3 linked regions of the Homo sapiens genome follow. The protein of the gene in region 3 purifies or fractionates together with the protein of the main gene of each other region. This does not show direct contact. Each region holds a gene or a part of one and is shown on either strand. Other genes may lie near its edges.

Region 1 (3,500 bases), on a different chromosome or scaffold from region 3:
CAGTGATTTAAAATAATCTGGCATTTTAATTATATCAAGTGTTTGTTGTATTTGTCTAGGTCCTGCAAGTATAGGTTTACTTAGCCCAGGAATACTGGAATACTTGCTACAGTGTCTGGTAAGTGAGACATCAAAACTATTTATTCTTAGTCATCTAGAAGTGGGCATCATCTAGAACTGTGCATTTTCTCAAATTGCTGGCATAGCCACTGGCACAGAGAATGGAATCAATTGTAAATTTTATTTGCAGGTGTTTCCCGAGTGCTTATTTATTCCCTCCTATGTTTAAAAAAGAGAGTGGGATTGGAATTTATCCCAACCAGCAAAAACAGCTGAGTTAGTCTGGTTTTAAATTTAGTCATAAGATAGCTGCTATGATTGGCTCTTTTGCATGTTCCTTGAGTTTGCCAAATGGTAATAGGGACCTCCACAGTAGAAACAATTACATGGCGTTCCAAGCCAGGAGGCCATCAAGTCAGATTCCCAGTATATATAAATCTCTACTCCTCCCTGCCCTCCCCCTCACTGCTACTCTTAAAACTGTTGTCACTGGAATATTTAATATATTGTCTATGAAGCTTCTGGTTTGCTGAGGCTGTGCCCTCAGATCTCTCATAGTTCTGGCCTGTGGTCTTGAATGGTCTGTATTTTTAAAAGTTATTTTTGTAGGCCTAGTGAGCATTGGCCCTTTTCAAAACTCTGGTCTGAAAACCCTTATTTGTCAATACCCACTGATACGTGCTTAAAACACTTACCTTACTCTCAATGAGCACTCTGGGGATACAACATGGCAGTCCTATGATTTCAAGAGGTTTATTGGTTAGTTGAGGAAACAAAACTACTCAGACAAGGTAATTAGCCTCCATTTTATCACAGGATGTGATCATGGGAGAAAGTACTTCATCAAGACTAAATGAGGGCCGGGCACGGTGGCTCATGCCTATAAGCCCGGCATTTTGGGAGGCTGAGGTGGGCTGGTCACCTGAGGTCAGGAGTTCAAGACCAGCCTGGCCAACATGGCGAAACCTGGTCCCTACTAAAAATACAAAAATTAGCTGGGCATGGTGGCATGTGTGTGTAGTCCCAGCTACTCAGGAGGCTGAGGCAGGAATTCACTTGAACCCAGAAGGCAGAGATTACAGTTAGCTGAGATCTCACCACTGCCCTCCAGCCTGGGCGACAGAGCGAGACTCCATCTCAAAAAAAAAAAAAGACTAAATGAGAAGGTGGGTGGTATGGGTAATGAGAGCCGGGGTGTCATGAAAGTCAGACTTCCTGATGAAGGTGGACCCTCAGCTGGGTCATGCTATAGATGAGGATTTTATTGTGCCCAGAGGAGGGAAAAAATTGGTTTCTTAGCTAAGGGAACATCACAGGCAGAAGTCCAGAGACAGAGAATTGTCTGATGAGAGAAGACAGTGTTCAGAGATAGGACACAGACTGAGTAGCCAGCTAGAAAGGGTTTAGGGCCTGAAAAGCCAGGCAGAGGGATTTAGATGGATATGAGAAGAAATAGAATGCTGAATAGGCTTTCCAGCAGCAGGGATGGTGGTTATGTGAGGTTTCCAGAACTTAGGAGGTACCAGGGAAGTCAGTGGGAATCATCTGATGTTCTGGAGCTCCTCTGGTGGCTCCCAATGTAGCAGTAGGGAAAGCACAGCTATGAGAAGGTGTCATGTTCAACAGATAGACCTTTCCTTAAAGGGGAACTCATGTGACATGAGCTTAAATGTAACTAAAAGAGTTCACTTGTTGCTTTCTCCTGTCTACCATCAGCATTTGTAGAATTCCTTTCAGGGAACAGCTTAAAAACTGAGCCATTAATTGTTAATTTAATTATTTATAATTTTGCAACTTGTTAGTGATAAGTGGTTCTTTTTAGGATTCTAAGTAAAATATCATTTTTAGTTTATAATTCTAGGTTTCTGTTTGGCTTGCATAAATGAATGTGAGAATGAATATTTTATTTAACAAAGCCCTAATGTAAGTTTTATTAAGTAAAATAACATAGTGTATTTAACAGGATACTTTTGAAATTTCCAAATCTATAAATTAACCTAGTGACTTTAAGAAAAAAATACAAGATTAAGAGAGCCTGTCCAGTTCATTACTAACATTATTAGCCAAATGGATAATTGAGAACTTGAATGAATGAAACTTTTCTGACCACTCGAAAAAACATCTAGCACATATTGGGCAAGGAAATGAAACTGATAACTTGCCACCTCTGCAGGGGAATGATTTTTTTTTTTTTTTTTTATCTTTTGTTGTTTTTCAGAAGTTACAGTCCCACCCCACAGTCATGCTTTTTGCACTTATCGCACTGGAAAAGTTTGCACAGACAAGTAGGTATAGTGACTTCTTGCACTAATGATCTTCTGTATTGGTTGTTAAAAATTTTATTTTTCTTAGTTACTGGATAAGCCTACACTTTGAACCCCATCAGATGGGCATACATTCTGTTTTCATCTGGATAGACACGTTAAAGCCAATGAAGTATAACAGGGACAAAGGCAAGGATTTTCTCACCTAAGAATCAAAACTTGGTAACCATGTTTACTCACTTTTTATAGCCAAAAATTTAGTGATGTGATTGCTAGTTTCTAGAAAAAAGTATGGTGGCTCTTGCCCATAATCCCAGCACTTTGGGAAGCTAAGGCCAGAGCATTGCTTCAGGCCAGGAATTCGAGACCAGGGTGGGCAGCATAGCAAGACTCAATCTCTACAAAAAATTTTAAAAAATCAGCCAGGCATGGTGGCATGCACCTATGTTCCTAGCTACTTGGGATGCTGAGGCGGGGGGATCACTTGAGCCCAGTAGTTCAAGGTTACAGTGATCCATAGTTGTGCCACTGCACTCCAGCCTAGGCAACAGAGTGAGACCCTGTGACTAAAAAAAAGGAAAACAAAATAGTCAAAGCTCTTTGGCTATGTTTTCCCTAGAAATTTTAATTGAAGTCTAATCTAGTCTCCAATTCTTTAATTGCCTCTTCCCCCTCCTTAGCAATACTAATTTGCTGAGCAAATCATTCTACCCTTTCATTGTTAATTCAAGGATTATGTCTTTCCAAACAGGTGAAAATAAATTGACTATTTCTGAATCCAGTATTAGTGACCGGCTTGTCACATTGGAGTCCTGGGCTAATGATCCTGATTATCTGAAACGTCAAGTTGGTTTCTGTGCCCAGTGGAGCTTAGACAATCTCTGTAAGTGGGAGTTGTCCTTTATTAAAATGTCCGTTTCCATTTCCAGACTCATTTCTTTCATAGGCTCACTGGTCTTCCTTTTGCAATGGTAAGTATGAGTCCTCATAAGGACCTCTACTGGCAGGTTGGATATATTCTAGCAGAAAAGTATCCTAGAGACCCTTTAGACAAGAATTACATGGTATGCTTCTAATTTCAGCATTTTCCTGTTCAAAAACCTTTACTGGCACCCAGTTTCCTGCTGCATCAAAGCCCTTAATTATATGGCACTGTCTAACCAGCTCTTTCCAACA
Region 2 (3,736 bases), on a different chromosome or scaffold from region 3:
CGTGTTAAATGAGGTAATTTCTCATATCTTTCAGTTAAATATGAGTTAAATCAGCTTACCAGGTAGCATAACCACTGTCACCCTCAAGGACTTCTCAATACAGAGAAGGAGGGGGTGACACAGAATGTAAAAATTAAAATTATGAATTTAATAGAGACCACAATATAAGGAATTTGGCAATAAAAAAGATAAATGGGTTAGAAGGTATTTTCTAAAGAATTCAAAAAATGTTTTAAGTGATAGAAACATTGTCAAAATAAGTGTATCACCTTCTAAAATGACATTTTGAAAAAGTAAAATTGATAATGTTAATAAATTATAGTATGTCAGACCCTGTCAAACTGTCCTCCATGAGAACACATTAGGCACAGCTATAGAGATAATTCACATATTGGAAAATAGAAGCAAAGAAACTAACTAGAATACAGACCTGGAAAACACAGAGATTGAAAATATGAAAAGGAGATTTAGTAACACAGAGCATAGAGAGAAAAAGCATACCATATAGTTAGCCAGAGTTCCTAAAGAAAATAGTCCCAGTTTCTTCAGGAACTCTGGCTAACTATATGGTACGCTTATACCATATAAGCATATCATATGGTGTAAGGGGGACTATTTGAAGACATAATAGCTGAGAACTTTCCAGAATTGAAGAAAGGCACCAAGCCATGATTTAAGAAGCCCAACAAACCCAAGCAAGAATTCTTTCTAGACATATTGTAGTGAAACTGTGGGACAATAAATATAAAATCTTAAAAGACAGAGGAAAAAGGGGCCGGGTACGGTGGCTCACGCCTGTAATCCCAGCACTTTCGGAGGCTGAGGTGGGTGGATCACCTGAGGTTGGGAGTTCGAGACCAGCCTGACCAACATGGAGAAACCCTGTCTCTACTAAAAATACAAAACTAGCCGAGCGTGGTGGTGCATGCCTGTAATCCCAGCTACTCAGGAGGCTGAGGCAGGAGAATCGCTTGAACTTGGGAGGTAGAGCTTGCGGTGAGCCAAGACCGTACCACTGCACTCCAGCCTGGGCAACAAGAGCAAAACTCCATTTAAAAAAAAAAAAGTAGAGAAAAAAGGCCTCAAAGGAGCAACTATGAGAGTGATAGCCAATTAGTCTTCAACCATAATATAAATATAGAGACAGTGGTAATTATTTCAATATGCTAGGAAAAAACCCTCAGTCTAGATTTATACCCAACAAACATAGGTTCTTTGTCCTTGCCAAGAACAAAGATGAAATAAATACATATTCAGACAAGGAAAGCTGAGTAAGTTTGCCAGCAGACCTCCAATAAAGGAATTCTAAGTTCAGAGAGAAGGAAATTATTTTCAAACGGAAGGTCTGAGAAGCTAGAAGGAATGAAGAACAAAAAGTGTTAAATATGTATGTACATGTTAATCTGATAATGTCTTTTGGGATTAATAGAGATGGAACAAAAATAGAAGACAATAATAGCATATAAATTATGAAGTGAGGCCGGGTGTGGTGGTTTATGCCTGTAATCCCAGCACTTTGGGAGGCCGAGGCGGGCGGATCACTTGAGGTCAGGAGTGTGAGACCAGCCTGGCCAACCTGATGAAACCCTGTCTCTACTAAAAATACAAAAAAATTAGCCTGGTGTGGTGGCATACACCTGTAATCTCAGCTACTTGGGAGGCTGAGGCAGGAAAATCACTTGAACCTGGGAGGCAGAGGTTGCAGTGAGCGGAGATCACATCACTGCACTCCAGCCTGGGTGACAGAGTGAGACTCCATCTCAAAGTAAAATAAAAATAAATGATAAGTGACATTCTAAGTTTTTATGTATTTGGGGGGATAATAATATATGTTAACTTTGGGCTTTAATAGGTATTTAAAATTTTCAAGGAACCAAAAGACAAGAAAGATTATAATTTCCAGACTAGTACAAGAAAAAGTACAGAATGAGAAAAAAATTCCAAAAGAAGGCAAGAAAGGAAAAGAAAAAAAGACAAGATATAATAAATAAAAAGCACAAAGAATAGCTGAAAATAAATCCAAACATTACTAGTTGCAATAACTATAAGGTACTAAATATTCTAATTAAAAGACAAAGAGTAGCTTGGCGCAGTGGCTCACGCCTACAATCCCAACATTTTGGGAAGCCAAGGCAGGTGGATCACTTGAGCCCAGGAGTTTGAGACCACCCTGGGCAACATAAGGAGACCCTGTCTCTACAAAAAGTACAAAAATTAGCTGGTTGTGGTGACGTGTCCCTTTGTCCCAGCTACTCAGGTGGCTGAGGCAGGAGGACCACTTGAGCTCGGAAGGTGGAGGCTGCAGTGAACCAGGATTGTGCCACTGCACTCCAGCCTGGGCAACAGAGACCCTGTCTTGCAAAAAATAAAATAAAATTAAAAAATAAATAAAAGAACAGTACCTCTTAAAATCTTACTCTTAATGGCATTCGTAGACTACATTCAGGCCTGCTATTCAGCTGATACTGGTTCAGCTATACTAGTTGTTAAAATATTGATATGTCCATAGTGGTTGAACAGTTACTGTCCCAAGCCTGTTAAGTGTCATCTTAATGCTTCATCGCCTTCCTTGGGACTTCCTATAGTAACCAATTATATAGCAACTAAAGAGTTAAGAACTAGGACAGCAAGAGACTGTCAGCAAACATCTCACTGGAGAACTACAGGGCAGCAGCCATTCTAATTACTCCTCACCCGTGCCTGGCAACCTCCAACACACAAAAAAATCCATAGGCCCAGTGACCATCTGGCTTCCCTAAGAGTAGGGCTGCCTACCTTTCTCATATCACTCTCACATGGCCCCTTTGGGAACTACAGCCCCGGGAGATCCAGAAAGAAGAGCAGTCAAATGAGAGTAATAGTACTGTACTACCGCAGTTGCCATCAAAATATATTAATTCTCTTGGCACAGTATACATTCCCATGGCAGGATAGAATCTACAGCAGATGATCGAGGCCTGTGGGGATGGTTTATGGATGAATAACTTCTGGGATGCACATCCTTAGTTTTATCATTCTTGTTTAATTTCCCCATTATTTAGATAGGATAAGTGTGCCAACACCCAATGAATACCTGCCTACAGTAGGCATTAATGACACTCATGTTATAAATGAAAATGACTACCAAAATACATCTTTTTCTGTCTACCAGACACATTTAGTTGGGGGAATTAAGAAGCAGAAAGTTTATTAAATGAAGGTTCTGTACCTTGGTGTATGCTGTTAACTGCTGTGTTACGTTACCTCTCACCTGGACTGAGGGATTAGGTTTAATATAATTAAGTATATCAATAAATTATTTTTGTGACTTAGTTATTAATATATTTAAACAAATATTGACTATATGAAACTAACAGCAAGCATTTGAAGGGCTAAAAACATTTTAAAATATACTTACTGTTACTTCAGCAAAAGCCAAAAAGAGGATTCAGCTCCCATGAACAATTCTGTTGATGTTAAGAGTGATTTCTTTTTTTTAGGCCAGGTATGGCAGCTCATGCCTATAATCCTAGCACTTTGGGAGGCTGAAGGTGGAGGATTGCTTGAGCTCGAGTTCAAGACCAGCTGGGGCAACATAGGGAGACCTTGTCTCTACAAAAAATTTTAAAAAGTGTGATTTTTTTTAACGTATCATGACTACAAGTTATTTAATGACTATAAATTTAATGTGGACATTCTTAGAAGGGCTTTATCTAGTTTCCTATGTCAATTCATGGTTCAGACAAGGGCATCTGTG
Region 3 (3,736 bases):
AAAGTTATACTATTAATATGTGAGATGATTTGGCAACATCCCGTCATATTTTGAGATACTACTTTTTGTTTCCATTCAGTTAAAAATAGTTTCTAAATTGTCTTTTGCATTCTTTGATTCATTGATTATTTACATGTGTCATTTAGTTTTCAACATTTGTGAATTTTTCAGACATTTTTATTATTGATTTCTAATTTAATTTCATTTTCATTAGCGAATTATTTTGTATAATTTAAAACTTAAATTTATTGACATCAGTGTTATGGACTAGACTATAGTGTGTTTTTAAAAATGTTTTAGGTGTATTTGATCAGAAATGTTTATTCTGCTGTTTTCTATGTATTCTATGTGATAACCTTTGAAATACAAAGTTTTGTAATATGGCTGGTAGAAACAGGCAAAATACTAGACCCTATGTTAGCACTAAGTATTGTTTACCCTAAATCTTTTCAGACAGTTCTTTCTCCATCCTGGAGTAGTTTTTTACATACATGCATTAGTAAGTACTCTGCTGAATATTCAAAGGTGACCTTCTGCATATCTTTACATTTCTTTATTTCTTCAAATCTCTTATCTCCATTTCTGTGTCCGGTGAACTACAGCTTGGTCTTTCTGGATTCTGAAGTGTCCCATGTCTGTAGTTTTTATAGCCTGCTCTTTTACCCACTTGATTGCACAGAGCAATTCAGCACACCCAGACTAAGTGACAACATCTTAATGTTCACTGATCTTATGAATATAGTTGTAATTCTCCAGATTAATGCTAGAGTATTCAAGAAAGGTCATTTCTACCATTTGAAAGATCTGACCTGTCACTACACTGTTCAGTAATTTCTTCATTCAGCTACAACGATCAGGAATGAAACCTAAGCATTTTGTCACTACTGCTTTTCCTTTTTTCAGTCTCATAATATCACAAATATTGCAGAAGTCCTCTAGATTGTAAATATTATAATTCTTTATTTCAAGGGGACTTTAGATATTTGAATTTCCAATTCTTCAATGTAATAAAAAGTCACAACAATATCAATGTTAAAATTAGGTTAATTAGGTGCTTCCTGTCTGTCAGACACAGATTTAAGCACTTAAATGTATCCTTTCATTAAATATACTTAACAATCCTGTATACAGGTGTTATTTTAACCTAATTCTAATGGTATACAACAGAATCTTAACATGTTAAATAACTCACTTAAGTTACAAAATGAATAATTGTTGCAATGAGGACTCAAATATATATATTTCTGGCTCTGGAGCCAGACTTACTATTAAATGACTAAAAAAGTGCTCTTTTCGCTGATTTTTAAATTTACTTTGCTACTTTAATGATTAATTGGCAATGATCAATGCACAACCTTTTACTCTCATGTGTTATTTTCAATTTTCCCCTTGTGTTTATTGTAGCAAGAACTCCCTACCTTCCTTCCTTATTATCTATTTGTAATTTGGAAGCCCCAGTATACCTTAGAATTGATCCAGGATGGCCTCATTTATGTATGGCTTGAGAGTTTTTTTAACAGAAAAAACATTGATTCTCTAAAAAATAAGAGTTTATATCATAGTTTCTCAATATTTTCCTATCTACAAGGACAAAATTTTTTTTCAGAAGCAAAACAACTAGCATACTAACTTTCTGTTTATGCATGTAGTAAATATTGGTTGATTACTGCACAATTTCCAGGAATTATGCAGAGATAACTACAGAGATGAGTAGAATAAAACTCATTTTAGAGCTTCAAACTCTAGTCAGAGATGTAGTTACAAACAAATAATCCAGTGTAGTTAGTTAGGTACTCTGGCAGAAGTGTAATGAAAGTAGTATGAAAAAACAGAGAAAGAAATCGAAGGAACACATGGACAAAGTGATATTAAAAAGAATGAGGCCGGGTGCAGTGGCTCACGCCTGTGATCCCAGCACTTTGGGAGGACCTGAGGTCAGGAGTTCAAGTCCAGCTTGGCCAACATGGTGAAAGCTCATCTTTACTAAAAATACAAAAATTAGCCAGATGTGGTGGCAAGTGCCTGTAACCCCAGCTACTCCTGAGGCTGAGGGGCAGCAGAATTGCTTGAACCCAGGAGGTGGAGGTTGCAGTGAGCCGAGATTGCGCCACTGCACTCCAGCCTGGCTGACAAGAGCAAAACACTGTCAAAAAAAAAAAAAAGAGAGAGAGGAAAGAAAGAAAAAAAGAACGAGACTCTAATGTAGACTGAACCTAGTAAGAGCAGTTATTAAAAAATCTCAGCTGGGGCCGGGTGCAGTGGCTCACACCTGTAATCCCAGCACTTTGGGAGGCCGAGGTGGGTGTATTGCTTTAGGTCAGGAGTTTATAACCAGCCTGGCAACGTAGTGAAACACCATCTCTACTAAAAATAAAAAAATTAGCCGGATGTGGTGGCACATGCCTGTAATCCCAGCTACTTACGAAACTGACACAGGAGAATCACTTGAACTTGGGAGGCAGAGTTTGCAGTGAGCCGAGATTGAACCAGTGCACTCCAGCCTTGGCAGCGGAGCAAGATTCTGTCTAAAAACAAACAAACAACAAAACAAAAACTCTTTAAGAATAGTTTTCTCCCTACAGTGGCCGATTGTTCAGTTACAGAACAGAGATCATTACATCGTCTTTTTAAATAGGGATAGCATCAGACCATAATCTTTTTATTTTTTTGTCAATTTTACATTGAAGTGACATCCTCACTCTTTCTTGAGCTTTCTATTTCCCATCTCTTATGAAAGAAAACAAAGTATCATTATTAATCATATAACTCCAAAAGATTAAAGATGCCAGAGTAAAACACATATATAGATATAGAAATCTCCACATGGAATGCCTAAACATATGCACACACACACACACACACACTTATACACACTTGTGAATGTGTGTATGTATGTATTAGATTTGAAATTTTATTTTCATTTCCTTACCAAGTAAAATTGCATATATCTGAAGAAAATGTTTTATTTTTCCACAAAACACAGTATCAAATTCTAAATTGAACACTGAATTTATTTCTCACTTAAATATTTGTTTTAAAATAAACATTCTAAAGTTTTCATTTAACTTGGGTATACATATGAAGAGATTTTAGACTTCAGAATTGGCTAGTTTCTGATGTATGATAAAAAGAGTGGCGCATTATTTATAATTTTTATTTTTATTATCTGAGTTGGCTATATTTTGTTTATGAATTAGGACCAGGCATGGTCCATAATCTCCTAAAATGGTATTAAGTTCCTGTATTTGAAGTTCAATAGGTATGATTCATTTTTATTTTCCCGCGTTAATAAAATCATGTATGTAATTTGTAATTGTCTCTCCTCTAGACTAACAATAATTGAAATGCAGAAGGGAGACTGTGCACTCTATGCCTCGAGCTTTAAAGGCTATATAGAAAACTGTTCAACTCCAAATACGTACATCTGCATGCAAAGGACTGTGTAAAGATGATCAACCATCTCAATAAAAGCCAGGAACAGAGAAGAGATTACACCAGCGGTAACACTGCCAACTGAGACTAAAGGAAACAAACAAAAACAGGACAAAATGACCAAAGACTGTCAGATTTCTTAGACTCCACAGGACCAAACCATAGAACAATTTCACTGCAAACATGCATGATTCTCCAAGACAAAAGAAGAGAGATCCTAAAGGCAATTCAGATATCCCCAAGGCTGCCTCTCCCACCACAAGCCCAGAGTGGATGGGCTGGGGGAGGGGTGCTGTTTTAATTT

What was found.
Region 1: the proteins of KLRK1 (region 3) and RSPRY1 purify together in Homo sapiens (affinity purification with mass spectrometry, with the first as the bait; one large-scale study listed by BioGRID). This does not show direct contact.
Region 2: the proteins of KLRK1 (region 3) and DCAF10 purify together in Homo sapiens (affinity purification with mass spectrometry, with the first as the bait; one large-scale study listed by BioGRID). This does not show direct contact.

What each region holds. Positions count from the first base shown.
Region 1 is NC_000016.10:57,213,829-57,217,328, forward strand, and holds part of RSPRY1 (RING finger and SPRY domain-containing protein 1 isoform 1 precursor), read left to right. Parts: intron 1-59; coding exon 60-118; intron 119-2,278; coding exon 2,279-2,345; intron 2,346-3,075; coding exon 3,076-3,207; intron 3,208-3,500.
Region 2 is NC_000009.12:37,803,722-37,807,457, forward strand, and holds part of DCAF10 (DDB1- and CUL4-associated factor 10), read left to right. Parts: intron 1-3,736. UniProt on the Homo sapiens protein: May function as a substrate receptor for CUL4-DDB1 E3 ubiquitin-protein ligase complex.
Region 3 is NC_000012.12:10,372,824-10,376,559, reverse strand, and holds part of KLRK1 (NKG2-D type II integral membrane protein), read left to right. Parts: intron 1-2,423; exon of another isoform or gene 2,424-2,525; intron 2,526-3,328; coding exon 3,329-3,446; 3' UTR 3,447-3,736. Other genes in the region: KLRC4-KLRK1 (NKG2-D type II integral membrane protein), read left to right, coding at 3,329-3,446.